Homo sapiens: one gene and its partner. The gene in region 1 interacts genetically with each later gene. Each region holds a gene or a part of one and is shown on either strand. Other genes may lie near its edges.

Evidence for each region. Genes that interact genetically often act in the same process or in processes that back each other up.
Region 2: changes in METTL17 (region 1) and PSMC1 together harm fitness more than expected from each alone (negative genetic interaction), as found in Homo sapiens cells (one large-scale study listed by BioGRID).

Annotation. Positions count from the first base shown.
Region 1 is NC_000014.9:20,995,163-20,997,601, reverse strand, and holds the end of METTL17 (ribosome assembly protein METTL17, mitochondrial isoform 2 precursor), read right to left. Parts: intron 2,438-2,439; coding exon 2,369-2,437; intron 1,766-2,368; exon of another isoform or gene 1,702-1,765; coding exon 1,651-1,701; exon of another isoform or gene 1,394-1,650; coding exon 1,310-1,393; exon of another isoform or gene 1,272-1,309; intron 1,076-1,271; coding exon 891-1,075; coding exon of another isoform or gene 818-890; coding exon 712-817; 3' UTR 567-711; downstream 1-566. UniProt on the Homo sapiens protein: Mitochondrial ribosome (mitoribosome) assembly factor. Binds at the interface of the head and body domains of the mitochondrial small ribosomal subunit (mt-SSU), occluding the mRNA channel and preventing compaction of the head domain towards the body.
Region 2 is NC_000014.9:90,259,444-90,263,104, reverse strand, and holds part of PSMC1 (26S proteasome regulatory subunit 4), read right to left. Parts: intron 2,991-3,661; coding exon 2,894-2,990; intron 1-2,893. UniProt on the Homo sapiens protein: Component of the 26S proteasome, a multiprotein complex involved in the ATP-dependent degradation of ubiquitinated proteins.

The DNA of each region.
Region 1 (2,439 bases):
CTCAGCTAGATCTGAGGTAGAGAAAGTATAGGTGGGGCTTTAAAGGGCTTGCTTTTTTTGTATTCTGGCTTTCGTACTCAGGCACCAGTTTCCCCCGATTCCTTATCCATTTTTCTTGCTTCTGCTTTAATGTTTAACTTGTACATTCATCATTATAGCAAAGGGCTTATGGAAATCTGGTTTTTCTACTTCTGCTTTAATGATCAGCTTACACATTCATCATTACAGCGAAGAGCTTATGGAGCTCTGAACTGCCACAATAGGAGAGGGCGAGCTTGAGATTTGTGTGGGAAGCCTGGCACCAAAAATCTGAGGAAGCTCTTCATTACAGGATAGGCCAGGATAATTAACTATACCTTTTACATGTTTTTTTTTTTTTTTTTTTTTTAAGGGAGGACGTCTTGCTCTGTTACCTATGCTGAAGTGCAGTGTTACAATCAAAGTTCACTGTAGCCTTAACACCTGGGCTCAAGTGATCCTCTTGCCTCAGCTTCCTGAGTGGCTGGAAATGCAGACACATGCCACCGTGCCCAGCTTCTACACTTTTTAAGAATCACAAAATCCACTTCCATTCTTCAAAAATTTATTATTTATTATTAAAAATCTCAAACAAACACAGACATATGGGGATACCAGCATTCCCCTCCTGGATACCAGGCAGCTTCAGCCCTGGCAGGCACGATAGAAGAAAATACTTGTTACACATCCTCATCAACTCTCAGAGGGATCCTGAGCCGTAGATGGAGGAAACGCAGACGGAGTAAGCACAGGTAAAAGATCTCCCCAGGAGCTGACACGGGCACAACGATACAAATCCCTGTGGAAACAGATGCTGGCGTGGGCTGCAGCTTCCTGCCACATCCCACTGATTTTGGTCACACCCCCCATACCTGCCGTGCCGGCGGGCTGTGAGCACAGCATGCTGCATGTGCCCATCTGGACAGCACAAGTGACAATGCACATGGCGAGGCCGTTTAAGGACAGGCTGAGTGATACGGGGCCAGCGATGAGCCTCCTCTGGAGACCCCCGAGCAAGGATCACCATAGAGAACTTTTCTTCCTTTGGTTTCTTGTTCTAAGATAAGGAACATAGAGACTGTTTAGAAGAAAAAGATATGGGAAAAAAGTTTGTACAGTCCCTTCTTCCCCATTCCTGCAGTCCTTTTTTACAATGTATAAATCATATACATGTAGGCCCTAAAGTCTCCAGGCTATTCTACAAATTATCCAACTCCTCCTAACTCTGATTCTTTTTCTTCCTGTTTTTCCAGGATGTTTGCTTCCTGCTGCAATATCCCCAGGTACCTACCCAGCTGAAGGGGATGGGATGGTACGCCTGTGAGAAGCTACAGGCCAGGTTGGTCAACTGGGGACAAGGGAGTTCATGGGGACACTGTGAACACATAAAAAAATGAGGTAAGACAAAAGAGCCATCAATCACAAAACTTAAAAACTGAGAATAATAGAGTCAAAAGGGGCCAGGGAGAAGGGAGGACAGGAGCAGTGGGTAGGAAGAGCCAGGGGAATCATTAGGTAGGAACTGGATAGGAACACAAAGTAGTGGAGAGTGGCTTAGCTTTACCATCTTACATTTCCCGGCCACGCCTAAGTTCAGATCCGTGTGGTGGGACAGGCAGAAGTAATACTCACCGGGGCAAAGACAAAACCAGGTCGAGGGTCCAAAGGTGACTTCTCTTTTCCCTGAAATCAAAGGAAATAAAAGAAATAAAGCTGGGCCAAGGGTCTATTTTCATAATTCAATCTCTGCACTCAGTAAACTGAGGACTCCTTTAACACTCAATTCTAATAACGATTGACTATGTCCTTTGAATTAAGCTGGCTGCATCTTTAATACTCCAAACAAAGAACTTTCTCTTTGCTGCAGGAGAAAGGCAAGAACTTGGCACATAGTACGGTGCTCTCCCTTGTCAGCAACCTCCACTCTCAAAAAAATCCCACTCCAGGACAATTAAATTTATGATTATACACTGGCTCATACTCTCCCCCAGTGACAAGGTTCTTAGCTCAGCAATGCCCTAGATTAGGAGTCCGCAAAGTTTCTTTTAAAGGGCCAGAGAGTAGGCAAAATCTATCTCTGTCCCAACTACTCAACTCTGCTGTTTGTAGTGTGAAAGCAGTCACAGACAACAGAGGCACAAATAAGCATGGCTTATATAAAAACAGGTGGCAGGTCGGATTTGATCCACAGGCTCTCATTTGCCAACCACTGCTCTGTATCATAATGACTTCATACGCCCAGTTTCCTGAGAGCCACCCTTGTCAATACATGACAGTCTCTTTCGTTTTCAAGAGAGTAACAGTAATTGGTGCCATATGGGTGGGGGAGTGAGGGAAGAAGAAGCCTTACCTTAAGGACCAGATCCCTGGCATCCATGAGAAGGCTGTGCCCAGCTTTTGTTCCATTCTCCACCAGTACCT
Region 2 (3,661 bases), about 69 Mb from region 1:
AATAGCTAGCCCCAAATGACACACCCTGGCTGAATAGTCTGTATACTTAAAGAAGAAAAAAGCTACTGACCCATCAGATACCTGGGTCTGGTTTATTTTTTCCCATAGGTACTAATAAAAAGTTACATATGTTGCTCAGGCAGTATACACTGTTGTATGCTGGCTATATACATACTCATCTATTTGTAGAATTTTGAAATATCAGGGATATTAACCCTGCTTATCACATATATGGCAAATATTTTTTTTCCATACATTATTGTTTCTTTTGGCTTTGAAGTCTCAAGCCACGTAAGAATTGTGTCTTTTTTTTTTTTTGAGACGGAGTCTTGTTGCTCTGTCGCCCAGGCTGGAGTGCAGCGGCGCGATCTCAGCTCATTGCAACCTCTGCCTCCTGGGTTCAAGCGATTCTCCTGCCTCAGCCTCCCGAATAGTTGGAATTACAGGTGTGTGCCACCACGCCCAGCTAACTTTTTGGATTTTTAGCAGAGACGGGGTTTCAACGTGTTAGCCAGGATGGTCCCAATCTCCTGACCTCGTGATCCACCTGCCTCAGCCTCCCAAAGTGCTGGGAATTGTATCATTTTTACAGATAAATATGTCAACCTTTTCTCTTATGGTTTCTGGGTTTTCCAAGTTACTTCAAAAACTGTCTTCTTCCCTAAGGTTAAATATATTTCTGAATTTTCATTTATTTATTTTCACATGTATACCTGTATTCCATTTGGCAAGAGTCAAGAATCTAATTTCATTTTCTCTGGACAAAAACTTTTGAAATGCCTTTTATATTTTTTTAATTTTATTATTATTATACTTTAAGTTTTAGGGTACATGTGCATGACGTGCAGGTTTGTTACATATGCATACATGTGCCATGTTGGTGTGCTGCACTCATTAACTCGTCATTTACATTAGGTATATCTCCTAATGCTATCCCTCCCCCTCCCCCCACCCCACGACAGGCCCCAGTGTGTGATGTTCCCCACCCTGTGTCCAAGTATTCTCATTGTTCAATTCCCACCTATGAGTGAGAACATGCAGCATTTGGTTTTCTGTCCTTACAATAGCTTGCTCAGAATGATGGTTTCCAGCTTCATCCATGTCCCTACAAAGGACATGAACTCATCCTTTTTTATGGCTGCATAGTATTCCATGGTGTATATGTGCCACATTTTCTTCATCCAGCCTATTAATGGACATTTGGGTTGGTTCCAAGTCTTTGCTATTGTGAATAGTGCCGCAATAAACATACATGTGCATGGGTCTTTATAGCAGCTTGATTTATATTCCTTTGGGTATATACCCAGTAATGGGATGGCTGGGTCAAATGGTATTTCTAGTTCTAGATCCTTGAGGAATCGCCACACTGTCTTCCACAATGGTTGAACTAGTTTACAGTCCCACCAACAGTGTAAAAGTGTTCCTATTTCTCCACATCCTCTCCAGCACCTGTTGTTTCCTGACTTTTTAATGATTGCCAATTGCCATTCTAACTGGTGTGAGATGGTATCTCATTGTAGTTTTGATTTGCATTTCTCTGATGGAAATGCCTTTTATATTAAATAACCCACCCTATTCCCCACAGACCTGAAGTGGCACCTTCAATGTATATTAAATATCCATGTAACATGACTGGTTTTGGACTTCCTACTCTGTTCTGGTGGCCTCTTTCTGTACCAATACCATACCAATTCATTATGGTAGACCAATGGCTGGTTTTACTGATTTCCTTCAATTAACTGAACAATATTTTTTAAAGTAGTTTAAGTATTTCTTCTTAGTTTTTTCTTCTAAGCAGGGAAGAGCATATTTAGATGAGCATTTGGGGAGGTATTTGAGCTGAAGCCTAAAGGATGAGAAGCAAGTAGCCATGAGAAGAACTGGGGGAACATTTTAAGCAGAGGAGTGAGTAAGGGCAAAGGCCCTGATATGTACAAAAGTCAAAAAAACATAAGGCAGGCAGTGTGACCGATGAGCAAGGGGGAGTGGCAGGGCTGAGGTCGGAGAGGTGGGCTGGGTCAGGTCACTTGGTATGAATTTTATTCTATGTTCGGCAGGAAGCCATTGAAAAATTTTATTATAACTTCAGGCTTGCATGATCTGAATTTCAATACAGTGGCATTTCATTTCATGAAATAAACATGATTCTTAGTTACTAAAGTTCAACCTGGGTTTTGTCATTTAAAACTATACTTTTATTTTATTTATTTATTTTGAGACAGAGTCTTGCTCTGTCATCCAGGCTACAGTGCAGTGGCACAATCTTGGCTCACTGCAATCTGCCTCCTGGGTTCGAGTTAAAACTATACTTTCAATCCACTAGAGGAGCCAGTTAAAGAAAAATGGTGACTTTTTTGTTTTTTTTTCTTTTTTGAGACGGAGTCTCGCTCTGTCGCCCAGGCTGGACTGCAGTGGTGCAATCTCAGCTCACTGCAAGCTCCGCCTCCCGGGTTCATGCCATTCTCCTGCCTCAGCCTCCCAAGTAGCTGGGACTACAGGCACCCGCCACCACGCCCAGCTAATTCTTTGTATTTTTAGTGGAGACAGGGTTTCACCGTGTTTTGCCAGGATGGTCTCAATCTCCTGACCTTGTGATCCGCCCGCCTCGGCCTCCCAAAGTGCTGGGATTACAGGCGTGAACCACCGCACCCCGCCACGGTGACATTTCTTAAAGTGAGACACAATCATATAATACTGTATTTTAAAACAAAAGATAACTTGTATGCCAACCTAGAGGAATGCCACACTCAAGAGTGAGGTAGAAATGAATCACAAAGCTAGAGCTTCAGTTGCCCCTCTACTTCCTGTTACCCCTTTCAGACTCTAAGCTACATGCACAGAGATGGTTTATCCTAAGAACTGGAAAGATGGCAAGGAGAAGCCATGTCATTACCCAGTGGCAGTTTGCTGGCAGCATCTGGTCCCTTTGTTTTCTTCTTCTTTTTCCCCACTCTAGTTGGTACAGGAGGTTCATATTTCTTTTTCTTGTCCTTGAGTTGTTAGAATAGCAGGAAAAAAAAATCACATGAAAATCATATTAAAACACACATTTATTTCTGTACCACCATCATCTATTTTCAGGTGGTACAATTTTCCTTATCTTTTAGGATGTTATTAAAAACCTGACTTGTTTCACATTCCTGCAATTTTAATAAGTAAATATGATTATAATAAGTAAATGTAGGCTGGGTGTGGTGGCTCACGTATGTAATCCCAGCATTTTGGGAGGCTGAGGCGGGAGGATCACTTGAGGTCAGGAGTTTGAGACCAGCTTGGCCAACATGGTGAAACTCCATCTCTACTAAAAATACAAAAATTAGCCGGGTGTGGTGGCAGGCACCTGTAATCCCAGCTACTCGGGAGGCTGAGACAGGAGAATTGCTTGAACCCAGGAGGCGGAGGTTGCAGTGAGCCGAGATCATGCCACTGCACTCCAGCCTGGGTGACTCCGTCTCAATAATAATAATAATAACAAATGAAAATAAATGTAATCGTTTTACCATACACATAAGTGACAATTAGCCATATTATTCCAATAAGGTATAGAGGGTTAAGAATCAAGTTATATGCCAAAAGTTTAGGTAACCTGAGACAATCTTCATACCTCAGGCTATTAGACACCAAAATTATAGGCAATTTACTTTAATACTTCTATAATGTC